Linked DNA regions of Homo sapiens. The protein of the gene in region 4 interacts with the protein of the main gene of each other region in a pairwise test. Each region holds a gene or a part of one and is shown on either strand. Other genes may lie near its edges.

Region 1 (7,028 bases), on a different chromosome or scaffold from region 4:
GCCTGGCAACAGAGTGAGACTCCGTCTCAAAAAAAAAAACAAAATTAGCTGGGTGTGGTGGTGCAGGCCTGTAATCCCAGCTACTCAGGAGGCTGGAGCAGGAGAATCACTTGAGCCTGGGAGGCAGAGGATGCAGTGAGCTGAGATGGCGCCACTGTACTCCAGCCTGGCAACAGAGCAAGACTCCGTCTCAAAAAAAAAAAAAAAAAGCCCGCGCACAGTGGCTCACACCTGTAATCCCATTTTGGGAGGCTGAGGTGGGTGGATCACAAGGACAGGAGATCGAGACCATCCTGGATAATGCAGTGAAACCCCGTCTCTACTAAAAATACAAAAAAAATTAGCCAGGCGTGGTGGCGGGCACCTGTAGTTCCAGCTACTCGGGAGGCTGAGGCCGGAGAATTGCTTGAACCTAGGAGGCAGAGGTTGCAGTGAGTCAAGATCACGTCACTGCACTTCCACCTGGGCGACAGAGCAAGACTCCGTCTCAAAAAAAAAAAACATGCATACAATCTATATCAAAGGAAAAATTAGTTTGCCCAGACTGGACATTTCTGTTCCACAGCAGGAAGGGAAGGAAACAAATTGCATTTAGGTTTGCATTCAAGAATCTGTTTCTAGCCGAGCGTGGTGGCTCAAATATGTTTCTAGCCGAGCGTGGTGGCTCACGCCTATAATCCCAGCACTTTGGGAGGCCAAGGTGGGCAGATCACCTGAGGTCAGGAGTTCGAGACCAGCCTGGCCAACATGGTGAAACCCTGTCTCTACTAAAAATACAAAAAATTACCCAGAAGTGGTGGTGCACACCTATAATCCCACCTACTAGGGAGGCTGAGGCAGGAGAATCACTTGAACCCAGGAGGCAGAGGTCACCGTGAGCTGAGATTGTGCCACTGCACTCCAGCCTGGGTGACAGAGTGAGACTCTGTCTTAAGAAAAAAAAACAAAAAAACAAAGAATATGTTTCTTTCTGAGATGATTAAACCTAAAAACTGATGCTGTTCCTCTGTCTTTTTAGGTTTTACTGTGCAGTTTGTTCAGATGGAGCCATTGCCACGGGCACTGAAGTGGATGTCTTCTGCATTTGGTGTGGGATCCTTCAGTTAAGGAGTCTGCACTATGGTGTTAACAGTTTTGGCAACAGACTGTGTATGTTTTTAAACAATGAATTTCTTTTTTTTTCTTTGAGACAGAGTCTCACTCTGTCACCCCAGCTGGAGTGCAGTGGCGCAATCTGTGCTTACTGCAAGCTCCGCCTCCCAGGTTCACGCCATTCTCCCGCCTCAGCCTCCCGAGTAGCTAGGACTACAGGTGCCCGCCACCATGCCCGGCTAATTTTTTGTATTTTTTTTTAGTAGAGATGGGGTTTCACTGTGTTAGCCAGGATGGTCTGGATCTCCCGACCTCGTGATCCACCCACCTCGGCCTCCCAAAGTGCTGGGATTACAGGCGTGAGCCATAAACAAAGAATTTCTAAAGGCTTATCTTAATCTGAAAGTTTGGCTGTAAATAATATGTCTTCAATATTTATTTTCTACTGACACCAAAAGAAGAGATATGTGGAGATGGAATACCTGATTAGGCACATGTCACAGTTAAAACATTTCACTGGGGAAAGTTTAAAAATTCTACAAGAGATTTTTGTTTTTGTAGGTGAATTCTACTTTACTAGAGCTTCGAAAAGTAGTTAAGATATTAATCAACAGTGAAACAGGCCGGGCACAGTGGCTCACGCCTCTAATCCCAGTACTTTGGAAGGCTGAGGCAGGCAGATCGATTGAGCCCAGGAGATGAAGACCAGCATAGGCAATGTGGAGAAACCCCATCTCTACAAAAATTACAAAAATTAGCTGGACCTGGTGGCACGTGCCTGTAGTCCCAGCTACTTGGGAGGCTGAGGCAGGAGGATCCCGTGAACCCAGGAAGTCAAGGCTCCAGTGAGCCATGCTCACACCACTGCACTTTGGCCTGGATGACAAAGCAACATCTTGCCTCAAAACAAACAAACAACAACAACAACAACAAAAAAAAACTGAAGCTGTTGGATTGGGTTTGGCACAGTATACAGCAAGACTTCTATTTCTTGCTAAATTGGCACCTTCATTTAAATCCTTGTGGCAAAACATTTTTAACACATTCTGATTAAAAGACAAAGTATTCCTCATAGCACCTTTTCTCTCTCAAATGTAGGAAACAACAACCCCTGAACTTTACTACTTGTCTGTGCTCCTGTCGGTGAGCAGCTTAACTTCTACAGGTAAGCAAGAAAACTTCCCAAGTAACCAATCCTTGTCAAAGGCTTACCAGTCCTTCGAGGCAAGTAACTACTCAACCAGCACTGTGACTGTGATGTTGCAAGGAGAATATTAAGCTCTAGTTCCTCTTTTTTTTTTTTTTTTGAAACAGAGTCTCACTTTGTTGCTTAAGCTGGAGTGCAGTGGCGTGATCTTGGCTCACTGCAACCTCCTCCTCCTGGATTAAAGCAATTCTTCTGCCTCAGCCTCCCCAGTAGCTGGAATTAAAGGTGTGTGCCACTATGCCTGGATAATTTTGGTATTTTTAGTAGAGATGGGGTTTCGCCATGTTGGCCAGGCTAGTCTTGAACTCCTGACCTCAACTGATCCACCCGTCTCAGCCTCCCAAAGTGCTGGGATTATAGCTGTGAACCACTGTGCCCACACCCTAGTTCCTCTTAAAGCAAGAGATCCAAGAAGCTAAGAAGTATGAAAAGCAAAGCAAAGAAAACGGGGGGAGGGGAGGGTTAGGATGGCATATGAAAAGCCATCCTTCTCACGTTACTTCCACTGCATTTAATGAGATCCTATTCTTTATCCTGTAGTGCTTTTGTCAGGCCTGGGGCTGATCTGGCGGGCCAGGGTGACCTGTCGAAGGCCAGATGCTAACCCAACAGTCTGAGCCATCTGGGTCCTGTTTTTCCTGTCTGAGATACTCGTCTCTACCAGGCTGGGCCTGTCCCAGCAGCACTGCCACCTATCGGCCATCACACGACCATCTCCTATCCTGCTATTTCAGCTGAACAGCAGGGCCAATAACAGGAAGCATGTCAAAATCAGTCATTTAGTAGAAAACTGCATTATGCCAGGCGTGGTGGTTCATGCCTATAATCTCAACACTTTGGGAGGCCAAGGCGGGCGGATCACTTGAGGTCAGGAGTTCGAGATCAGCCTGACCAACATGTCAAAACCCTGTCACTACTAAAAATACAAAAATTAGCCGGGCATGGTTGCAGGTGCCTGTAATCCCACCTACTTGGGAGGCTGAGGCAGGAGAATCACTTGAACCCGGGAGGCAGAGGTTGTAGTGAGCCGAGATTGCGTCACTGCCCTCCAGCCTGGGTGACAGAGCGAGACTCTGTCTCAAAAGAAAGAAAAAGAAAGCTGCATTTAAGTATTAATGAGCACTCACTGACAATGGATAAAAAGAAACAGTTCCGCTGAAATCACAGGACTGACATCATAACCCAATTCACCCCAAATAAAGATCTCCTATCAAATACTTTCACAATGATTATTGTGATTTTCTAAACCTCATTTTTTGTTCAATGAAGTTAAGTGGCATCAGCTGGGAGACTGCTATAGAAATAAGTGCTGAAAAAGAGGAAGGAAAATAGAAATCTTAGTAATGAACAAAGGTTTAGTTTCAAAAGACCCCAGTAATTCAGATTGTGTATTTAAACAAGGTCAATTTATTGCTTCTTTAAGAATGTAGTGGGGCCGGACACGGTGGCTCATGCCTGTAATCCCAGCACTTTGAGAGGCCGAGGTGGGCGAATCACTTGAAGTCAGGAGTTTGAGACTAGCCTTGCCAACATGGTGAAACTCCGTCTCCACTAAAAAAAACAAAAAAATTATATATATACACATACATATATATATATACACACACAAAAATTAGCTGGGCCTCTTGGTGTGTACCTATAATCCTAGCTACTCGGGAGGCTGAGGCAGGAGAATCGCTTGAACCCAGGAGGTGGAGGTTGCAGTGAGCAAAGATTGCACCACTGCACTCCAGCCTGGGTGACAGAGTGAAACTCCATCTCAAAAAAAAAAAAAAAAAGCAGTGGAAGATTTTAGAGTAAAAATAACCACAACCTCCCCCTTATAGATTATAACAATCTTCTGCATCATGACAGCTAATTGTTTTCTAGAGAAAATAGCTAAGTGACCTGCATTGTGTTTTGTCTTTCTCTTTTTTTTTTTTGAGACAGAGTCCTGGTCTGTTGCCCAGGCCGGAGTGCAGTGGTGTGATTTCGGCTCGCTGAAATCTCCGCCTCCAGGGTTCAAGCGATTCTGCCTCAGCCTCCCACGTAGCTGGGATTACAGGTGCCTGCCACCATGCCCGGCTAATTTTTGTATTTTTAGTAGAGATGGGGTTTCACTATGTTGGTCAGGCTGCTCTTGAACACCTGACGTCAGGTGATCCACCTGCCTCGGCCTCCCAAAGTGCTGGGATTACAGGCGTGAGCCACCATGGCCAGCCGTGTTTTGTCTTTTTACTTCAGTGTATATTTAACAATTCCGGGCCAGACACAGTGGCTGACGCCTGTAATCCCAGCATTTTGGGAGGCCAGGTGGGTGAATCACCTGAGGTCAGGAGTTCGAGACCAGCCTGGCCAACATGGTGAAACCCCGTCTCTACTAAAAATACAAAAAATTAGCCAGGCATGGTGGCGGGTGCCTGTACCAGCTACTTAGGAGGCTGAGGCAGGAGAATCACATGAACCCAGGAGGCGGAGGTTGCAGTGAGCTGAGATGGGGCCATTGCACTCCAGCCTAGGCAACAAGAGTAAAACTCTGTCTCAAAAAAAAAAAAAAATTCTGAAGTATTTTTGTTAGGGACTAGTTACTCACAAATGGTCCCAATGTCATTAAGGACTGGATACCACTTCATTTTGAGACAGGGTCTCGCTCTATCACCCAGGCTGGAATACAATGGCACAGTCACTGCAACCTCCACCTCCCGGACTCAAGCCATCCTCCCACCTCAGCCCTTACCCCAAGTAGCTGGGACTACAGGTATGCCCCACCAGACCTGGCTACTCTTTTGTATTTTTTTGTAGAGATAAGGTTTCACTATATTGCCCAGACTGGTCTCGAACTCCTGGGCTCAAGCAATCCGCCCACCTTAACCTCCCAAAGTGTTGGGATTACGAGCATGAGCCACCTCACCTGGCCGACAACTCCATTTCTTGAGAAAAAGAACAGTACTAATGGGCAAGAAGAACGTATTCAGTATAAAATCTCCCAAAGTATCTCTGACAGGCACAGCACCTGAACACATGGAAATGACTGTTCATCTGTTCTCATCTGGAGAGGTTACCTAATATATACCCACTATCCCTTGACGCCACCAACATTTTCGGACCACCTTCCACATCCCAGACACAGCACTAAGTTAGGAATTAGAAATGCGAGCAATCACACAATAAGAATGAAATTCCTTTGAAGTAATTATATTACCATGATTAACAGAAATTATTTAGAAACAACACATTCTCTAGACCTCATCAACCACTGCAGGGCTTTGAGCAGAGGAGTGACATGATCTGACATATTTTTAAGGATCTCTCTAGCAGTTGAAGCTGAAAACAGAATGTAGGGAGAGGCAAGGGTACAAGTGAAGACATAAGATGGGAGGCTACTGCAATAATCCAGGTGACAGGTGATGCTGACCTGGCCCTGATGGTGGTAGCAAAGTGATAAGATGTCACTCAATTCTGGGTGTATTTGGAACATACAGCCAATGTGATTTGCAATGGATGGGATGTGGGCTGTGAAAGAAAGAAAAGTCAAGCATGACTCCAAAAGTTTTTGGCCTAAGCAGCTAAAAGAACAGTATTACCTTTAATTGAGAAGAGAATGATAGTGAAGCATGATGGCGTGTGCCTGTAATCCTAGCTACCTGGGACCTTGAGAGCTTGTTTGGAGGTTCTAGCAGGGGAACGCAGCTACTTATATACCCTTGACCGAAGATTAGTCCTCCTCTATTGGGGATGGTCGTTCTCTTCGACTTGAGTGTGCAGCTTCGGGAGGGATATACATGGAGCAGTGAGGGAGGAAGGAGACACCGGCCTAGCCAGCCAGATCAGCCGGATCAACCCTGGTGATCAACGGGGTGAGAGATGTCACAGCCAGGTTGCCCTCACATCCTACTTGGGAGGCGGAGGTGGGAGGATCACCTAAGTCTAGGAGTTCAAGGCTGCAGTGAACCATGATCACGCCATTGCACTCCAGCCTGGGCGACACAGCAAGACCCTGTCTCCAAAAAAAAGAGAAGAGAAAGATGTCTATGGAGTAGGCTTGAGGGGACTATCAGGAGTTCAGTTTACAGAGAAGTGAAGTTTGAGACATCTATTATATATCCAAGTGGTGACAATAAGTAGGCAAGTGGAGAACAAAGCCAAGTTCAGGGGAGAGGTACAGACATACAACAGACTAGAGATTTGGATGTATCTGCATATAGATGGTGTATTTGTCTGCTTGGGCTGTCATACTAAAATACCACAGACTGGGTGACTTAAACAACAGAAATTTACTTTGTCACCATTCTGGAGACTAGAAGCCCAAGATCAAGGTTTTGGCCAATTTGGTCTCTGGTGGCAGCTCTGTTCCTGTCTTGTACATGGCCACCTTCTTGCTAGTCCTCACATAATCTTTCTTCAGTATGTAAGGGTAAGGGGCAAGCTCTCCATTCACTCTTCTGATAAGGACACTAGTCCTATCGGATCAGGGCCCCACACTTATGACCTCATTTAACCTTAATTATTTCCTTACTCCAAATACAACCACACCTAGAGTGACATCTTTGATTCTAAAAGTTCATGTTCTCACCCATTATGCAAGACTTACAATGGTACAAGCTATTTAAGGCAGACATTTAAAAGAGGCCCAAGTGTTCAGAGAGCCTTTGGCTCCTGGTACTTCTTGTTAGCCACTCAAGTTTCATCTGTCCCAGCATTTTCCCTACCTAGTTGGAGCAACTTGCGTTCTCTGGGCTCCCATCCCAAG
Region 2 (7,028 bases), on a different chromosome or scaffold from region 4:
AAGTGCATCTACTTCTACAATCCTAAGCTAGGTCACATATTTCTATCACACATCTGTTACATTGTAGAATGATAAGCAAGAACTAGGTAGCACCCCATAAATGAACAAATGCCCTTTGGCCAAGTGAACAAATCCACTGCAACTATTACCTACAGTGGGGCCAAGGGGCCTATGAAAAGTATCTTTTCTCTTTAGGACAGAGGAAAGAACACAAGAGCAATCCTGGCGGAAGGAGCAGCAGTATACTCTATTCCCTGAAGATTCTGGAGAAAGGGCAGCAAAGTCAGAGCATCCCAACTAAGCACGCAGATGTATTTTGAGTGACATACAAGTGAGCAAGGCCATCATCGATGGCCTCAGCCCCCTGGGTGGGCAGGCAGGGCGGGGGCCTCCTGCCAAGATCAGCCTCCTCCATTTACAGCAGTGCACCACACTTATAATTTTCTATGTGGAAAGGCTGGATGCACTAAGCTAGAGATGTATGACTGAAACCGAATCCAATAAGGTAATGGCTAAAACTATAAATTGGGGTAAAGACTCAACATGTCCTTCACAATTATAAATGGTTCCTCAGAGAGTAACCCTGTTTCATATCTTCAGTATGTTAAGGTGAGAGGTAATTATAAAGTAAAGGCTGCCCTAATTAGAAAGAATATTCCATCTTTTTTTACTCAGAAAATGACATATTAAATTCAAATGTGAAGGATGTTAATAACAAATCTGCAAAAACCATCTCACCAGTTAAATACTGATCATTTGGTTTAAAAATGCACACACATCCGGGAGGCAGAGGTTGCAGTGAGTCAAGATCACACCACTGCACTGCAGCCTGGCGACAGAACGAGACTCCGTCTCAAAAAAAAAAAAAAAAAGGCACACTGACATTGACTCTCATTGGAAAGTTTTTTCTTAACCTTCACATCTGCTCTATTTAATTGCCACAATTCTATTATACAAACTATAATATATGTAGGCCAGTGAAATGTATTCCAGTTAGAATATTCAGAAAAGAAACATCTTTCAAAGTAATGTGGTCAGAAGTCCCAACTATGCCTCTGCAAAATAGAACATCCCCAATTGAAAACATTTAAGTTAGTAGATTTAAAATATTCTCAACTACAGATGCACTATTATAATTAAAGCATTTCCATTTCAAATTATTTTAACATTAATCACTTATTATGTAAGAGATTTAGACAAATTCAAATAGGTATTTAAAATACTTACATTATCTATTGATTTAAGCCTGAGTCCAATTTTTCCATCTTGATCCTTACACAAAATGACTTCACGAATCCCTTGCTTAATTTCTGCTCTACGAATTCCAACATCATTACCAGTTACAGGAGCCACCATATAGTTTATACTGGAAGGTCTTGCTACCAACTGCTGACAAAACCATATACAATGTGTCAATATCTAGAAACACTCTCCTTGAAAAAAACAATGATAATTAACTGGAACTTACTCAGTTTTGGCTTTCCAAAAAGCAATCCACAAATAATTTCCTTCCGATAAAGTTTGATGTCTATGAAAATGGCACTGGCTCTACTACTAATTCTTCACTAACTTATTCCCACACATATCATCTCTAATAGATTCAATGACTCTCTGTTGCCCTTTGAATTCACTGGCATTTGTTTCACCGGTATACTGGCTTGTCTTCATCTCAAATTTATTATCTTTGAACTTAAAGGCCATATACTTTTGAAACATTTTCCAGACGGTTCATGATGTCACGATCTTTGACAATCTACTTATCCTTTCAGAATTTCCATAAAAGGGGCAAATTTCTTACCTCACTGTTACTGACAGGATTAAATGAAAAGTGCATGTTGTATGGGCACTGGCACACATAAGACAGTCAACTATTATGTCTCTTCCCCTCTAGTAACCATCTATGGATTAACAAATCATATGCACAAACCAGAATGCCCCAGAATACCTACATTAGGGACCTGTGTCATATACCATGTTTCAAGTTTCTAATTCTTTCCAGTTTTCCTAATCAAAACTGGTTTATTTTAAGTGGAACCTTTCCCCAACCAAAAAGAAAATGGAATAATATTAGGCCACTAAAAAAAGGAAATCCTGCCATTTGGACAACATGAATAAATGTAGAGAATATTATTCCAAGTGAAATAAACCAGACACAGAAAGACAAGTACTGTCTGGGTCCCACTTATATGTGGAATCTGAAAAGAGTCAAACTCACAGAAATAGAGAGTAGAAGGAAGGTTGTCAGGGGCTGGGGTTGGGCAGGGCAAAGAATGAGAAAAATGTTGGTCAAAGTGTACAAACTTTCTCAGTTATCATATGAGTACGTTCTGGAGATCTAATGTACAGCATAGTAACTATAATTAATAATACTGTACGGTATACTTGAAAGTTGCTAAGAGTACATCTTAAGTGTTCTCACCACACACCAAAAGAAATGTAACCATGTGAGATGACAGATACGTTAATAACCCTGACTGTGGTAATCATTTCACAATGTGTGTTTGTGTGTGTTTATCAATACATCAAGTTGTATTGATATATACAGTTGAATATATACAATTTATATTTGTTAATTATACCTCAATAAAGCTGGGGAGAGGAAGATCCAGATGGAACATCAAGAGAAGAAGAATAAAATATGTGAAATGAAAAATTCACTAGATATGAAGAGATAACAGAAATCTCCAGCAACAAATTAATTTAAAATAGAACAGAAGAAAAATAAAAGGCGGCGCACTGAAGAACCCTGGAGATGCAGACACAAAAATGAAGGTTATATCACCCTTCTAGGTATTTGGGCAAAGGGATCTAAGCATCCATGTAGTGAACAAAGGAAGTTCTAAATTTTAACTACAGCCTCATGATCAGTTACTAAAATAAGAATCAGAGCAGCTATGACTCTGTTCTTCTTTGTATTTGTATATTTTCTGTAAATACAGCAATTAATCTTTCTGTTCCTCTATACCTCTTTTTACCTTTATGTATGAATTGTTGGTAGTGGTTAACTTTACACTTTTGCCTTTAAATTAAAAATATTCTGTTGGGAATGTGAATACTTAGAAGGGTAATTAGTATCATATAGTAATCAATACCATGATGACTGCCCAGAGATGGCCACATTAACTGGTATCATCCCTTTCTAGAGAAAGGGTGAGAGCAACTTCATTTATATTGAAGGGTACATGGCTTCATTTTGTACACCCCTGAGTTAAAAATGATTTTTATATTTTTAAAGATTGTAAATAAACAAATAACAATAAGAATATGTGATAAAGATCATAAGTGACCATGAAAGCCTAAGGTATTTATTATGGAGCCCTTTATAAAGTTTGAACTTTGATTTTATGAAGAAATTCATCTTTCAAGGAGAAACTATAAAGTTGTTGTTGTTGTCACATGAAATTCAAATGTTTGTACAAGTGTGTGGATATACTGAGTAGTCAAAGGAGTAGGTGGTAACAGATATTAAACTACTGTTTGTCAGCTCCAAATCCACCCTTCTAGACTCTACTTGGTGATGCTGGGCCTAACTGTGCAAATTATAATTTCGTTTGTCAGTGACTGGAATGACAAGCACCTCATTCCTTCCTGTGTGCCTCCTGCTCCTGTCAGTACTGTGTAAGCCTGGCCCTTTACACTGGCAGCAGCAGTTGGTTCCAGTCTGCAACTTTTACTGACACTCCCAGAACCAGCCTCATTACAACCCCTCAGAGGCACTAGTAGTGTCCCCTCATCCAAGGTCTGAGTCCCAGCTCCGTGGGGCTCTTCCTCAAGCTTCTAGGTTCTGCTAACTCCAATCTCTCTCCTGTGTTATCCCAGTCCTAGGAGAAGCAGCTAGCTATCTGCAATTACATCTATGTCCATTTATGTTTTTTTCAATTTTTCAACCTCTTAAAATACCTACTATTATTTGTTTTCCCAACTGCATCACCACTAACACAAGCAAGTTTTCAATAAATATTTGGTAAATACATAAATGCCAGGTACTGTATATGCATTGGGATATGGCAACAAGACAGACACAGATTTAACTACAATTATAATAAGTGGTACAAAGTGCTATGGTCATAGCAATAACCTTAATAAAAGGTTATCAGACCCATTATAATTAAGCTAGACTCTGGAGTCTAATTACATGGAGCTTTGAATTTCAAAAAGAATGTTAAAAGATTAAGAGCAAAGGCCAGGCACAGTGGCTCATGCCTGTAATCCCAGCACTCTGGGAGGTCGAGGCAGGTGGATCACCTGAGGTCAGGTGTTCGAGACCAGCGTGGCCAACATGGTGAAACCCGGTCTCTACTAAAAATACAAAAAATTAGCCAGGCATGGTGGCGCGCGCTTGTAGTCTCAGCTACTTGGGAGGCTGAGGCAGGAGAATTGCTTGAACCCAAGAGGCGGAGGTTGCAGTGGGCCGAGATCACGCCATTGCACTCCAGCCTGGGTGACAAAGTGAGACTATGCCTCAAAAAAAAAAAAAAAAAAAAAAAAGATTATGAGCAACAAAGATATGATAGACCTATATGTGTATTTCAGAATGATTAACTTAGCAGCGGCTTAGTACTGTCTGAAATAAGTTACTAGAGGAAATTTAAGAGAGTACTATAATAATGAAGGCTAGAAGTATAGAAACCCTGAATATGGTTATAGTAGGACTAGAATGGATAAAAAACAGATAAAATGAATACAAGAAACAGAAACAGAATCAATAGGACTTAGTAACTGACTAAATGCAGAAGACAAAGGAGAACGAACTAGTAAAAGGTATCTGAATCTAAGTCCTAATAAACTCAAAACAGTGTAGCACAAAATGAAGTAGACTATATAAGAAATGATATCCAAAAGGAAGTCTAAAATTTCTGAGAAGTGAGGTTCAATGCTAGTAGTATATCTGTGAGTTAGCCACAAAGAGGAAAGCTTATACTAACATGTAAAGTATGATTTTATATAAATCAAAATTAATTACACTATACATACCCCCTGAAGTGGTGCACCAGAAACCACGGCCACATTTGCACGTATTTCTTCTTCATTTAAACTCAGCCCCATGTATTGAGAGAGCTCTGGATACAGTCTGGGATAGAGATCTAAAAAGTAAATGAATAAATTAAAAAGCACTTACAGAATACACAAAATGAAAACTTCTCTCATTATGGGCTTCTGCGTATTAACAAAATTACACTTAAGTTATAAAATCTAGAATGAATTTAAAGTAGCAATTTGGAAAGGCATCTCCCCATCTCTGTAATAATGAGAAATGGAAAATACAGAAAATGTTTAAAATTCGTAAAATATGAAGACATCTGAACTGAAACAACCAGAGATTCCTAAACACTCAAAAGTAGAAATAACTTTTCCAAATAAACTATCTTGCCTTTCCTGTTTCTTAAAATAAACTTACTTGATTAGGAATTTAGTAAGAATGCCACTGATTCTCCAATTCAGAACAACTGACCAAAATATCTATTTGTCAAGTCAGCTACTTTATAACTCATTCTGTAAACAGGGATATGGAATGATTCTTATGAACAATTTTTTTTGGAAGCTTGTAAATTTATTTAGTGTCTTATCATTTTAATAATTTTAACCACATTCCAATGAAATCCTGGAAATGGTATTTTTAAATATTAACATTATTTCACTTATTAGTAGTTATATACTATTTCCAAAAGCTCTTTTTTACATGAGACTTAAATTATCTGTGACTTAAAATGAATTTTCTATGAGGCACAATGTTATAAACTGTTGTAAGACAAAATGACAGGCCACAAAAACTTATTTAACACTTATTTTGTATCTTAAGTCATAGTATTTAGGAGCTCTGTCCTGAATCCCTCTGAACCTTGAAGAAAAAGGGACCAAAGACAGGATACAGAGAATGAATAAAGGCCTTAAGATTTAGGAGGCTTCCCAAAGAGGAGGTGGTTGGAAATTTCAGAAGCTCCCATAGGAAAGACAGAAGACAATTCAGAAAGTTCAACAGCAGCAGCATGATAGTTCTTAAATGTGAATTCATATAGTTCTCATATGTGAATTCATATATATAATTCATTCATAAATGAATCAGCCACGTTAGGGATTTACAAGTCAGTCTAAAATTAATTTTCATTAAGCCATGAAATACATCCCCATATCCACAGTTCACTATCTTAATTAGAAAAAGGGTTATTTTTTGAAGTAAACTTTTTTTTCTTATTCATAACTATTTGAGCTTAACTACCAATTTTATGCAGCCTGTCCAAAAAAAAATCTTGGATTCCTTATATGAGCAAAAGAAGATAACAATATTTCTGTTCACAGAGAATGAACTCAAAGTATAAACCTACTTCCATCGTGAGGGATAGGAGCAGAAGCTTCTGACAAAATTGCTGGATTGGCAGGGTTTGCAGAAAAAGCAGTTTGAGCCTGAAAAAGAAAAGAAGAAAATTCTAACAATATGCTATACTTACTTTATATTCTTATATAATTTATAAGCTAAATCCAGTACTTCCAAAAAGAAACTAAAACAATGAAGATTTATGTAAGAAAGTTTAATTTCAAACACATCAGCAATACATTTTCCAAAGGAAATCTGCAAATCAAAACTATATTTGATATTCTAAATACTTTTAAGGCTATCACAAAAAAATTGTAGAAGTACCATTCTACATGTCTTATAACCAGCACTTCATAGTGCTGCCACAATAAATTAATATTTTCAAAGTGCATTCTAAAATGAATAAATTTTACATTTTCATTATTCTTTTACTAATTAGTCCAAGTAAAAATATTTTATTTGCATAAGAAAAAACCTTACCCATATTCATATAAAAGTCACATATCAGAAAAACACCTAAAAAATTAATACTAAGCATGTCCCACTGAAATCATCTTTATCTTCATTGCAGCAAGTATAGGAAGGGGTTTATGCTAAATACTTTTAAAATATCAGAAATTATGAAAATAGCACAGTTTATCACTGACATAAATCGATGATGACAAGGTAATGTAATTTGTAACTGTTAAACAAACTTGCCAAAATCACTCTGACA
Region 3 (7,028 bases), on a different chromosome or scaffold from region 4:
GCACCCTGGCATGGGCAACAGAGAAAGACCCTGTCTCTAAGAAAAATTTAAAAAATTGAAATGTAAGAACAGTCATGAAGCCAGATTGCCCAGGTTTTGCCCCTTACTACTGTGTGATTTTTGGCTGATTAACCTGATTATTATTTTCCCCATCTAAAAGCGAAGATGATGACAATAGTGTCTGCCCCATAAACTATCATGAAGATTACATAAGTTCACATACTTATGTGCTTATAAATAGTACCTGGTACTAAAAGTATAAAATAAATGTTATCTATTATTATCTTTTTTTTTTTTTTGGAGGCAAGGTCTCAGTCTATCTTCCAGGCTGGAGTGCAGTGGCATGATCACAGCTCACTGCAGCCCCAACCTCCTGGGCTCAAGCGATCCTCCTACCTCTCAGCCTCCTGAGTAGCTGGGACCACAGGTATGCACCACCATGCCTGGCTAATTTATTAAATCTTTTGTAGAGACGGGGGTCTCCCTGTGTTGCCCAGGCTGGTCTTGAACTCCTGGGCTCAAGCAATCCTCCCACCTCGGCCTCTCAAAGTGTTGAGATTATAGGCATGAGCCACATGCCCAGCCCAATTATCATTATTATTACAAGATCTTTATTACAAGGCTGAGATACAGACGCTAGCTGGCTGAACTTCTGGCTCCTGTTTACCAACTTTCTAGCCCACTCAATTCAGACCCTTGCTAGCTCTTTTCATCATCCTATGAGGCGTGAATTATTTGCCCTGTTGCAAATTCTTACAGTGCTGTCTGAAAAAGAGATATGCTAGTGTAATCTAGAAACTGGAAGAGCACTGTAGAGACAAATAATTCGGGATTTTAATGACTCTCTTGCAGGGAGAAAGGCAATTGAACAGGATGACTCACAAGGTTTATACTGAAAAAGCTTAGAGCTTTTTCTAAGCGCTTAGATTATTTTTTAGTGACCAGCTCTATAAAAGCAGTGATCAGAGCCCATGCTAGCTAGACCTAAAAAGTAATAGTTGTAACACAGATGTATTTAAACTGTGATAAAAAAATTAGACTATACACATGAAATTGGTTTGAATTACCTCGGCTTTAGAGAGCTGCCTGTCATTGTCCATGTCTATTTGTTTAAATGTCTCAATGCTCCGTGGTCCTTTGGTCACAGCATAAAGTTCAATCTCAAAAATCAATGTAGCATCCGGTGGAATCTTGCCTTCTGCTAAGGGTATAAATTTTAACAGTTTAACTTATGTAAAGATATAGTTCAAATATCTATTCATGAACTGCCATAACCATATTATATTATTTCATGTTGATAAGAATTGCTATCTGAATACTCACAATTTTTAATTTTTTCTCATCTTTTATAACTTTTTTCGGCTTTTCAATAGTTTTCTTTTTTGTTTTTTTTTCTCTTTTTTTTATAAATACTTTTTTAGGAATATTTTTTCCATATGTTTCCAAACCAAGTCAATTCAAAGGACCTATGGGACCACTATTTCTTGATTAATTTAAGTAAAAATCATAAACTTTTTATTAATGCATGGATATGACCCTCTATATCTGTGGGTTCTGCATCTGTGGATTCAACCAGTCTCGGCTTGAAAATATTCATACAAAAAAAGGATAGTTGTGTCTGTAATAAACATGTACAGACTTTTGTCTTGTCATTATTCCCTAACCAATACAATATAACAATCTTTTACATAACATTTACATTGTATTAGATATTATAAGTAATCTAGAGATAATTTAAAGTACACCGGAAGATGTCCAGAGGTTATGTGCAAATGTGATGCCATTTTGTATCAGGGGCTTGAGCTTCTGTGGATTTTGGAATCCATGAGAAGGTCTTGGAACCAATCTCTAACAGGTACTGAGAGACAACTGTACTCTCCTATCATCAACACAGAAGAGAGGTGGCACAGAGAAGAAATGCATGGGCAGAAAAATTGCAAAGCATAGATGAGTCATCTTTTAGAAAGTGATTTTGTGTAGTTATTTGGAAGCATAAATAAAACATAAGTATTAATATATTTGTCTTTCAAATTTTTTATAGACATTAAAAAATAAGTGCAATGATAGAAAAATCCAGTAACAGGCTGGGCACAGTGGCTCACACGTGTAATTCTAGCACTCTGGGAGACCGAGACAGGAGGATCACTTGAGCCCAGGAGTTTGAGACCAAACTGGGCAACATAGTGAGACCCTGTCTCTATTAAAAAAAAAAAGAATTAAAATAAAAATTCAGTAACAATTTTACAAAGAAATTGTATACATTTTTAAGCAATAAGTTGAATACCTATTTTTATTTTTATTTATTTTTTTTGAGACGGCGTCTCACTCTGTTTCCCAGGCTGGAGTGCAGTGGTGCAATCTCCGCTTACTGCAGCCTCTGCCTCTTGGGTTCAAGCCATTCTCCTACCTCAGCCTCCTGAGTACCTGGGATTACAGGTGCACACCAGGCATTGCATTATTAGTAGAGATGGGGTTTCACTATGTTGGCCAGGCTAGTCTTGAACTCCTGACCTCAGGTGATCCGCTTGCCTTGGCCTCCCTAAGTGCTAGGATTACAGATGTGAGCCACTGTGCCTGGCCAGAATTGCTCTCTTTAATTAAGTTAACCTATTAGCTGATGTCACAGATTTTTTTTTTTTTTTTAGACAAGAATCTTCCTCTGTCACCCAGGCTGGAGTGCAATGGCACGATCTCGGCTCACTGTAACCTCTGCCTCCCAGGTTCAAGCAATTCTCCTGCCTCAGCCTCCCGAGCAGCTGGGATTACAGGTGCCTGCCACCAATCCTGGCTAATTTTTTATACTTTATTAATAGAGATGGGGTTTCACCATGTTGGCCAGGCTGGTCTCAAACTCCTGACCTCAAAGGATCCACCCACCTTGGCCTCCCAAAGTGCTGGGATTACAGGCGTGAGTCACCGTGCCAGGCCATGATGTCACAGGTGATTTTAATAAGTGATGGGCTATTTCAGATAAATATGTCATAAAAGTGACTTGCAAAAATGACTTGCTAAGGGGCAGCGGGTAGCTTGTGTCATCAGTATATTGCCAGTGTCCTACACAGTGCCTAATCTACTACAGGCAGTCCAATATTTGCCGAATGAATGACCCATATCATTTATTTTTAAAATGTTTGTCCTTGGAAGGAAACAGCAATTTCTTTAATAAAAAAGTGAAGCATTCTAGCTAAAGTCTTTATATAGTCTGAAGAGAAAAGAGTTTGTGAGTTATAGCCAAAAGGAGTAGCAGATTAGTAGTTTTCAAAGAGAAAACATAGAAAGATCTACCCATGCATCATATGACTAACATAAAAGTCCTAACCTAATGCACCACATATTACCTGACTTTAGAGTAGAAGAGCTAGAGATTGAGTCAATGATTGTTTTATAAAACCCATTCCTATTTTTTCCAGTTATCTCCTTATGACAGAATTATTGTCTCCTGACAATAATTCAAGGCAAACTCAAAACACAAATTCAAATTTCTTTTCTTTTCGTTTTTTTTTTTTTTTGAGACAGAATCTGTTCTGTTGCCCAGGCTGTAGTGCAGTGTCGCGATCTTGGCTCACTGCAACCTCCACCTCCCGAGTTCAAGTGATTCTTGTGTTTCAGCCTCCCAAGTAGCTGGGATTACAGGCACAAGCCACCACACCCAGCTATTTTTTGTATTTTTAGTAGATACGGGGTTTCACTATGTTGGCCAGGCTGGTCTTGAACTCCTAGCCTCAGGTGAGCCACCCACCTCGGCCTCCCAAAGTGCTAGGATTACAGCTATACGCCACTGTGCCCAGCCCAAAACTTGAATTTCTTAAGAAAAAATATTGTAGGTACATATGCAGTTTTTGAACAATTTTGCTATAAACATAGAAAATATTGGCCGGGCGCAGTGGCTTATACCACTTTTTTTTTTTAGACAAGAATCTTCCTCTGTCACCCAGGCTAGAGTGCAATGGCGCGATCTCGGCTCACTGTAACCTCTGCCTCCCAGGTTCAAGCAATTCTTATTTGGCTTATACCACTGCGCCTGGCCAGGAGGGCGAGATCAGCCTGGCTGGCCAGGAGTTCGAGACCAGCCTGGCCAACATGGCGAAACCCCATCTCTACTAAAAATACAAAAATTAGCCAGGCATGGTGGCGTGTGCCTGTAATCCCAGCTCCTCGGAGGCTGAGGCAGGAGAATAGCTTGAACCCGGGAGGCAGAGGCTGCAGTGAGCCAAGATCAATCACACCACTGCGCTCCAATCTGGGTGACAGAGCAAGACTCCATCTCAAAAAAAAAAAAAAAAAAAAGGATATATTGCCAATTACCTCTTTTTCTTGTTTTTTTTTTTTTTTTAAAAAAAACTAAAGTATAAAAATGAGGAAAATATGCATTTGCTACGGAATTACTTATATTTAGAGAAGCAGATCAAAGAAGTAGGAATTAAGGTAAAGAATATATACATACCGCATGTATTGTTATTTAAGCACTAACAAGTCACATGCATTTCAAGACATGCAGGGTTGTTCTGTGACATGAGACAAGGATATTTTGCAGAAGAAAGACTTCTTCAAGTACTACCTAAAATAAAGTTATAGCTAATGTTAGGTCTTAATAACAACTTACTTTTAAATGCTTATTTAATCAAGAGGTTGTTTGTTAAACAGTTACTTAAGGTCTACACTGCAACTTTTAAAATAATGTAATCCAAGGTATTGGATTACAATGCCTAATGTAACGCAGGCAAGGTCAGTATTAACTATGGTCCAATTAACACTTTTTTTGGGCCTCAGTTTCTTACTCTGTAAAATGAGGGTGCTGGTGGTATTACTAGTGAGATTAATCACTTTAATGTTTGTTAGAGATACCTCCAATTGAATATGAACTTGTTTCACATCAAACTTCTATATCTCTGCAGCAAGTTTCTGATTTATTAAGAGCTTAGGCAGCCTGGGTAGTCATTCATATCTAAGCATAAATTAGTTTATGAAAAAGATAAGCTAAGTGGTCCTTTGCCTGATGGCGGTGAACCCTGGATGAGCACCTGATGATGACAGATGTGTGTGCTCTAGGCAGATAGGAGAGTGGGTGCTCTAGTGGTAGGCAGAATGTGGAGGCATCTGAAGACACAACGCAAGACAGAAAGGAAAACTTTGAAAATGAGAAAGAGACTGAAAGGCAAACTCTGCCTCCAACATTTTGCCTAGAAGTGGCCTCAACTTTTGACAACATTTTTAGCACAAGTATTGCATTTGACTTAATTTATTTTCAATTTTCCTTCTCTTTCTCCTAGGTTCCTATACAAATAAAAACAGGATATATGAATTATGGTACCATGGGAGCTGTTCTGATGGGATCAAATTATTGGCAAAAAGCATTAAAAATAAAGCTGAAGTTATCTGGAAATTGTCTCTTTAGGAGTTTTAAGCCTGACTGGGTCTGACTCAAAGCACTGACACCCCCCCACCACCCGCCAATCCAGTGTGGGGCACTGATGCCCCGATTTTGCTGGAAAGAACTCTTAATGACTAAGACAACTGCCTCAAAGAAGGCATGCCACTTCCATGAAATATTTGGGAGCAATGCCAATATCTCATTGTGGAAAATTAATCTTTACTATTTCAAACCGGTGGAGTCAGCAGTGGCTCTAAATAGGGTAAGGAGGCAAAGATTCTTTCTGTATAGCCTTCAAGCAGCAACACGGAGCAAGAACCTAACTAAGGATGCAAGGTACAGCCTATCAGGCTGCCCATCCTCCTGCCTGCTTTAAAAATTTTCTTCTCTGTTCTGCTACATGCAATTTTTGTAATTTAAAATTTTAATTTTGGAAAAATTAATACATGCCTTATAAAACTTTCAAATGGTACAAAATGTTAGAGTGAAAAGAAATCTTCTCATCCTTGACCCTGAGGCCTCCTTCCCAGGAACACTTAATGTCATCAGATGACTGCATATTCTTCCAGATGTATTCTGTGTAGATACATGCATATGTGAAACTCCTCCTCTGAAATGAAAGCTCATAGAGGATTGGGAGTAGTGTCTACTTTGGTCACTGCTTTATGCCCAGTGCCTAGAACAAAGCCTGGCACTGATGCTCAATATATATCCCAAAAGTGGAATATAGTCTTGTCCACTTTTTTTTTTGAGCCAGGGTCTTGCTGTGTTGCCCAGATTGGAGTGCAGTGGCACAATCACAGCTCACCGCAGCCTCGACCTCCCAGGCTCCAGGGATCCTCCCATCTCAGCCCCCTGAGTAGTTGGGACCACAGGCGGATACCGCCACGCCTGGCTAACTTTTTAATTTTCTGTAGAGATTGTGTCTCCCTACATTGCCCAGGCTGCTTTCAGACTCCTGGGCTCAAGTGATCCTCCCACCTTAGCCTCTCAAAGTGCTGGGATTATAGGCATGAAGCCACCATGCCTGGCCTCCACTTTATTTTTAACATATTAATAAGTATAGCTCTACTTCATTCTTTTTACTGGTTACACAGTAATTCATTGTATAGATATACTATAATTTATTTAACTAATTTCCTATTGATGGATAGGCAGGTGGTTTCCAACCTTTTGCCACCCTCCCACCCAAAAATGCCTGCAGTGAATGTTCTTTTACATATACCTTTGTGCACATTCCTGGAAATGGAACTATTGGATAAGAAGGCACGTGCATTTTCACTTTTTTTTTTGAGATGGAGTCTCGCTCTGTTGCCCAGGCTGGAGTGCAGTGGCGCAATCTTGGCTCACTGCAACCTCTGCCTCCCAGGTTCGAGCGATTCTCCTGCCTCAGCCTCCCAAGTAGCTGGGATTACAGGCACACTCTACCACACCCAGCTAATTTTTGTATTTTTAGTGGAGACGGGGTTTCACCATATTGGCCAGACTGGTCTCGAACTCCTGACCTGAAGTGATCTGCCCACTTCAGCCTCCCAAAGTGCTGGAATTACAGGCATGAGCCACCACACCCGGGCCTGCATTTTCACTTTTGATAACAGTTGATAGAGAAGTTGAATGATTTCCATTCCCAGCAATAATGCTGGTTTTTCCATGCTTT
Region 4 (7,028 bases):
TAGCATGATGGCCTGGTTGATAAAGAATGAGCTTCATTCCCCCTCAGTCTATGACTCTCCTCCCATAAGCAGTGGGGTTTTATTTTCCCTGGGGACCTGCTTTTTGGATATGTGATCCCTTAAGAAGAATGACCTCGTCAGATAGAGCCTGGACTTAGCAGTCCCTGGTGACTTTCTCCGATGTTAACATTTACTCGCCCTGTGACTATGTATGGAAAGCATTATTGCTTTCTCTTGTTGTAGATTTTCTAACCATGGCCAGAGGTAACTCTTCTTATGATTAAACAGCCCTTTAATAATCTGAAATATATGTGAACTTACCAAATTTTGTATGTAATTTCATAGAGTTTGTAAACCATCTGACTCCATTTATAATTCAGAGCTGTCTGGCCTTTAAGTTAGACAGTATTTCCCTAGGGAGCTGAATAACCTCTCCTAGAGATGTTATAAGTGCTGATGAGAATTAGTTTTTGAAATGCTCAAATAAAAAGCATAATTTTCCATTGTTATTAATGATGGATAATAGCAAAATATCTGCTAATAATAGTAGAGTTCTTACTTAAGCATCATGCTTTTCTAAGTATTTACATAACTGATCTGAAGCAGACCTTCTGATTTTTCTACTAATAGAAATTTCCCTTTCTGAATCAAGCAGAAATAGGTCTCCCTTACATCAAAGTTTGTGTTACCTTGAAATAGATTGGAAAGAATACATTTTTGTAAAAGTCATTTTTTTCTTGGATTTGTTTCCAGTTGGAGAAACCCTAAAGTCAGGGCACTTGCCAATTATCACAGGACTGTGAGAGTCCCTTTTTTGCTCAAGATTGTGGCTGGCTGCTTGTACATCTTTGACATTATCACACATCAAGCATATTAGAAAAAGGGGTGACTTGGGAGAGTGAGGGGATCAGCACTTTAGGCCTTGTCAACCCTCCTGCTTATCTGCTTGGCAGCTTCTGGCATCTCCTTTTCCCTAAGTCCTTGAACCTCTTTCCTAAGCGTAAACCTTTCTGTTTTTAGTCCTAAACCTCTCTTTTCACAGTATTCCTGTCAAATGAGTACTTAAACACATGTTTCATCTGTGATTTGTTTTGTTAATTGCTTTGTGGATTATTTGTGGCAGAATTTAAATCCTAATTCCTTTCTACAATTTAGCCAGTAAATTCAAGGAATGTACCTTTTTACGTTTGCAGCATGTGCCGAAGCGCCACCTCAGAAGATAAAAAGAAATGAGTCTCATATTTGGCATTCTTTTAGGTTTGTTACCTACCTTATTCATTAATGTAAATAATTGAATTACCTGTATTTTACCATTCGTAAACCAGGTTAATAGATATATATTAATAGCAGGCTTTCTGTGTGTGTCTTTTCCCTCCTTTCTTTCTATTTATTTATTTATTTATTTTTTGAGACCAAGTCTTGCCTTGTTGCCCAGGCTAGAATGCAGTGGTGCAATCTTAGCTCACTGCAAACTCTGCCTCCTGGGTTCAAGCGATCTCCTGCCTCAGCTGGGATTACAGGTGCCCGCCACCACGCCCAGCTAATTTTTGTATTTTAGTAGAGACGGGGTTTCATCATGTGGGCCAGGCTGGTCTTAAACTCCAGACCTCAAGTGATCCATCCGCCTCGGCCTCCCAAAGTGTTGGGATTACAGGCGTGAGCCACTGTGCCTTGCCCCTTGCTTTCTTTTGGGAATTCTCTTGTACCACAAGTTGAAAGTTATATTAGTTTGAGGCTTTCTATGTTTGGACTAGGATGACTGCCAGTGAGCCAGGGGAACCCATGAATCTGCTAGGCTGTTATATCACATTCACAACTACTTGCAAACCAGTTTTGAAGTGAAGGCTGCCAAAAATAATGACATATGGTCCCTGCTCTATAGAAAATGAGCATATGACCCTTAATAAAAAACAGGTAGTTTTTTTATATACAGAAAATTACCCTAAATGTGATTATGTTTCTTTATTTTTTGACCGTAGAACAGGAATCTTAATCTTTTTTGTGTTATGGACTCCTTTGGCAGTGTGGTGAAAGCTTTTAGAGTTCCTTTTTGGAATATGTTTTTATATGCAAAAATAAAATACATAGAACTATAAAGAAAACCAGTTATATTGAATTATATTGATATATAGTTATCAAAATTTAAGAAGTATGATATGGTATGAAAATATCCATGATTTCTACTGGTAACAAATCCATTTGTCTAATAAGTCTGCTATTACTGCTGTAGCTTATGTTCATCACTGAAGTGAAAATAAAGATACAGTCTTTTTCATCCAAATTCACAGACTTCCTGAATTCTATCATAGACCCTGCCTCAGAGATATGAGTTCCATAACCCACTCTAGGAAGATCACATTCTAAACACAAGAGTTTACTCACCAAATATTCTGGTAGAATAGTGGCAGAGTAAAATTGTTCAACTGTAAGAACTATTACATGTGTCCCTCATGGTTTTTTCTTTCCTGAAATATTCTACTACATGTCCAGGCCGAAGAAGTATAAGCTTTATTATGTGTGCCAGTGGCTAACCCAGGGTCTGGCACAGAGTAAGTGCCGCTCAGTGTTTGTTGAATAAGGGTTTCTCTGACGAAATTAGAGGGAAGAGATCCAGTTCAAAGCTAAGGTCTTAAATGTGACAGTTTATAGGGCTCATGACAAGTAACGTTGAACTTTAGTTTAGAACTAATCTGTCAGAGAAGCTCATGTTTTGAAATTCACTTTTACATTTATAAGTTCTCAGCCTGGTGTGATAGTTCATACCTATAATCCCAGCACTTTGGGAGGCTGAGGTGGGAGGATTGCTTGAGGCCAGGAGTTTGAGACCAACCTGGGCAGCAAAGTGAGACCCCCATCTCTACAAAAAATTAGCTGGGTGTAGTGGCATGTGCCTGTAGTCCTAGCTACTTGGGAGGGTGAGGCAGGAGGATCACTTAAGCCCAGCAGTTCGAGGCTGCAGTGAGCCATGATTGCACCACTGTACTCGAAATAATTCTATTTCTAACACTGTTTTTCACTTTAGATTGGGTAAATTTAGGTAGAATTTGCCACCAAATTATTAATAAAGCTGGTCCTGATTTCATCTAGGATGAGAGGTAGCAAACTTTTTCAGTAACGGGCCAGATTGTAAATAGTTTAGGGTTTGCAGGTCACACAGTATCTGTGACTACTCAGCTCTGCTGTTGTAGCACAAAAGCAGCCATGGACAATAAACACATCAGTGAGTGAACATGGCTGTGTTCTGATCGAATTTTAATTACAAAAACAGGTAGTGGGCCATCTTTGGCCAGCTAGCTGTAGTTTGCTGACCCCTGATCTAGATTTTCTGGTTCTTGAGTCCAGCTCTTTTCCCTACTTTCGCTTAGCCATATACTCCTTCAAGCTTCAAAGGCCTTTACATAGGGGGCAATGTCCTTACACTGTTATCTCCAGAAAGACCTGAGTGTACAGCAAGATGATAGGATTAATGAATGCCAGGAATATTAGATGCACTTTAACCCTTGAGTTTCCAGAGCTTGCCTCTTAGAGCACCAGCTCATTAAGCACCACCACGGTAGAAGCAGAGAAACATCCCAAATGTAAAGTCTGCTTGCGCACTCGGCTTTGGAACTGGGCATTGATATGCTGATAGAAAAATACTGGGCATTGGGTTTTAGTGGGGAAGATAATGTAGGCCTAGAGATGGGGAAGGCAGGAATAGAGTGCAAAGGAAAAATTATGCCTCATCTTTTTGCAAATAGTTCCTTGTAGTAATTGGTCAAGTTTGAGTTAGATTTTTGAAATGTGGAATAGCATATGTAATTGCAACTTGCTACTACAAGAGCTCACCCTTAGTCGCAGTTTTACTTTCCGTGGTTTCAGTTACCCACAGTCAGCCACGGTCAGAAAATAGGTGAGTATGATGTAGTAAGATATTTTGAGAGTGAGAGAGAACAGCCACATTCAGATAACATTTATTACAGTATATTGTTATAATTGTTTTATTATTAGTTATTCCTGTTAATCTCTTACTGTGCTTAATTTATAAATAAAACTTTATCATAGCTCTGTGTATATAGGGAGAAAACAAAGTAGAGTCAGCCCTTCGTGGCCATGGGCTCCACATCCGCAGATTCAGCCAAACTTGGATCGAAAATATTCAGAAAAAAAAAAAAAAAAAAACAATAAAAATACCAATACAACAATAAAAAACAGTACAAATAAAAAACCAATATTGTATAATAACTGGTTACATAGTATTTACATTGTATTAGGTGTTGTAAGTAATGTAGAGAAGATTGAAAGTATATAGGGGGTATAGATTATATGCAAATTCGACACCGTTTTATATATATAAGGGACTTTTGAGCATCTGTGGATTTTGGCATCTGCAGGAGATCCTGGAACCAGTGCCCTGCAGATTCTGAGGGACAACTGTCCATATAGGGTCCATACTCTCTAGGGGTTCAGGCATCTGCTGGCGTCTTGAAACATTTCCCCTGTGGATAAGAGAGGACTCTGCTATATTTAGATTGTTACATAGTTCAGGAAGCAAAGTCCAACTCCTCTTTCCCTTGGTAGGTCTGTTTGCAATAAGGAAGTTGAATAGAAAGGATTGGATAGGCCGGGTGCGGTGGCTCACGCCTGTAATCCCAGCACTTTGGGAGACTGAGGCGGGCAGATCACCTGAGGTCAGGAGTTCAAGACCAGCCTCAACATGGAGAAACCCCATCTCTACTAAAAATACAAAATTAGCCAGGCGTGGTGGTGCATGCCTGTAATCCCAGCTACTCGGGAGGCTGAGGCAGGAGAATTGCTTGAACCCGGGAGGTGGAGGTTGTGGTGAGCTGAGATCGTGCCATTGTACTCCAGCCTGGGCAACAGGAGTGAAACTCTGTCTCAAAAAAAAAAAAAAAAAAAAAAAAAGAAAGGACTGGATAGGAGTCCCTAAAACTACTTGTAGGAGCCTATCATCTTTCAGACTCAAGCATAGACATGCCAGCACCTAGATTCTGTCTCCTTCAGGACATTCACATTGGAAAAATATGACTAGCTGTATCCTTAGTGTCTCCTCAGTGCCACCCCTCCCTCCACAAACACATCTTCCACTTGTCTAGCAAAGCTGATGTGCCTCAGCAGGCATGTGTTGGAACGTGGAGGAACAAGGCAAGCAGTGTGTACTGGTAGGTGAGTCAGCAGAAACCAAACCAGGTCTTTGTGAGTCGGAGTAAAAATCACAGGCACAGATACTGCATTCTGTATTTCGAGGGCACTTTGGAGACACTAATGTACTTAGCAGGCAGGGTGTTGGGGGATGGGTTTTTATGTCCATATTTAGAGTCTGTGCTCAAATTTCAGTGATTAAGATAAGGTGACTTATCTAGGGAGTGAATAGGCAGCAGTTGGAAAGATCAGGTCTTAACAATTGCTGTATTCTGGCTGTCAGCCCTTTTTTTTTTTTTTTTTGATAGAGTTTCACTCTTGTCACCCAGGTTGGAGTGCAGTGGTATGATCATGGCTCACTGCAGCCTCCGTCTCTTGGGTTCAAATGATTCTCCTGCCTCAGTCTCCTGGGTAGCTGGGATTACAGGCACCTGCCACCACGCCCAGCTTATTTTTGTAGTTTTAGTAGAGACCGGGCTTCACCATGTTGGCCAGGCTGGTCTCGAACTCCTGACCTCAGGTGATCCTCCCGCCTTGGCCTCTCAAAGTGTTGGGATTACAAGTGTGAGCCACCACACCTGGCCTAGCTTTTTTTTTTTTTTTTTTTTTGAGATGAGGTCTTGCTCTGTCACCCAGGCGGGAGTACAGTGGAACGATCTTGGCTCACTGCAACCTCTGCATCCTGGGTTCAAGCGATTCTGCCACCACAGACTCCCAAGTAGCTGGGACTACAAGCATGTGCCACCACTCCTGGCTAATTATTTGTCTTTTTAGTAGAGATGGGGTTTCGCCATGTTGGCCAGGCTGGTCTTGAACTCCTGGGCTCAAGCAATCCATCCGCCTTGGTCTCCCAAAGTGCTGGGATTATAGGCATGAGCCACTGTACTGGGCTGTTATAGCCTTTTTGACAAAGAAAGTGTTCTGGAGGATGAACCACTAAACAAACAGGAAGTGTTGGCCCATCCTAGTAGGGCTCTTGAGGGAGGTTCTCTATTCTATCTCCAAATACTTTTCTTCCTGTCTCATTCCTAAGGGTCAGTCTGCAGGGCATTGAGTAATGCACTGCCCCATGTTCGCCTCCTACTGTATTGGCTCTGAGGAGGCGCGATCATTTCCCAGTCCCATTGCCCGCTGGACAAACAGGGATATTAAGGCAGCCTGTGTGTGTGCGTGTATTTTTTTTCCCCTTTGAATGTAGATATTTAAAGCCACCTCCTTTTCCAGAGCCATCACTGTACCTTACTTGAATGGTATTGGTTGATGACAGAGGCGCACTTATCATAAACTGAGAGTCCAAGAAATATTGTTCCTCATTGTTGGAGGTATTCCAAATGGTTACTGGGCAGTTATCGATGTTGTAATGGTGGTGTGGCTTTAGGTACACCTAAGTTTCAGTGTAACAAATTAAGAAGCCAACACGATGTTAGGATGTATTTACTGTCTTCAGTACGCCCTCATCCTCCCACACACCTTTTCTCTACACTTTCTCAGTAGCAAAGGTGATGTGTCCGGGCAAGCATCTATTGGAACATGAGGGAGACTGGGGGTACCTTTTTCCATGATTTTAAACATCAGTTATTATTCTGTATGCTTTGGTGCTGCGGTTATAAGTTAGTAGATGTGAGAGAACATTGGGATGGCATAAGAAGGCCGGGAAAAAATGAAAAAAACTTGTGAGACCTACAGAGTAAAAGTTTATTATTGTTATTATTATTTTGAGACAAAGTCTCGCTCTGTCGCCCAGGCTGGAGCGCAGTGGCGTGCGATTTAGGCTCACTGCAACCTCCACCTCCAGGGATCAAGTGATCCTCCTGCCTTAGCCTCCCAAGTAGCTGGGATTACAGGTGCATGCCACCACGCTCAGCTAATTTTTGTATTTTTAGTAG

What was found.
Region 1: the proteins of PCYT1A (region 4) and NMNAT1 interact in binary tests that used the Homo sapiens proteins (3 or more experiments, as listed by UniProt).
Region 2: the proteins of PCYT1A (region 4) and SDCBP interact in binary tests that used the Homo sapiens proteins (3 or more experiments, as listed by UniProt).
Region 3: the proteins of PCYT1A (region 4) and FKBP7 interact in binary tests that used the Homo sapiens proteins (3 or more experiments, as listed by UniProt).

Annotation. Positions count from the first base shown.
Region 1 is NC_000001.11:9,946,460-9,953,487, reverse strand, and holds part of NMNAT1 (nicotinamide/nicotinic acid mononucleotide adenylyltransferase 1), read right to left. Parts: exon of another isoform or gene 5,981-7,028; intron 2,917-5,980; exon of another isoform or gene 2,840-2,916; intron 2,258-2,839; exon of another isoform or gene 2,191-2,257; intron 1,150-2,190; exon of another isoform or gene 1,019-1,149; intron 1-1,018.
Region 2 is NC_000008.11:58,570,261-58,577,288, reverse strand, and holds part of SDCBP (syntenin-1), read right to left. Parts: intron 6,403-7,028; coding exon 6,324-6,402; intron 5,085-6,323; coding exon 4,975-5,084; intron 1,390-4,974; coding exon 1,228-1,389; intron 1-1,227. UniProt on the Homo sapiens protein: Multifunctional adapter protein involved in diverse array of functions including trafficking of transmembrane proteins, neuro and immunomodulation, exosome biogenesis, and tumorigenesis.
Region 3 is NC_000002.12:178,468,585-178,475,612, forward strand, and holds part of FKBP7 (peptidyl-prolyl cis-trans isomerase FKBP7 isoform a precursor), read right to left. Parts: intron 5,384-7,028; exon of another isoform or gene 5,271-5,383; intron 4,559-5,270; exon of another isoform or gene 4,445-4,558; intron 2,941-4,444; exon of another isoform or gene 2,853-2,940; intron 1,202-2,852; coding exon 1,068-1,201; intron 1-1,067. UniProt on the Homo sapiens protein: PPIases accelerate the folding of proteins during protein synthesis.
Region 4 is NC_000003.12:196,277,704-196,284,731, reverse strand, and holds part of PCYT1A (choline-phosphate cytidylyltransferase A), read left to right. Parts: intron 1-1,193; exon of another isoform or gene 1,194-1,257; intron 1,258-7,028. UniProt on the Homo sapiens protein: Catalyzes the key rate-limiting step in the CDP-choline pathway for phosphatidylcholine biosynthesis.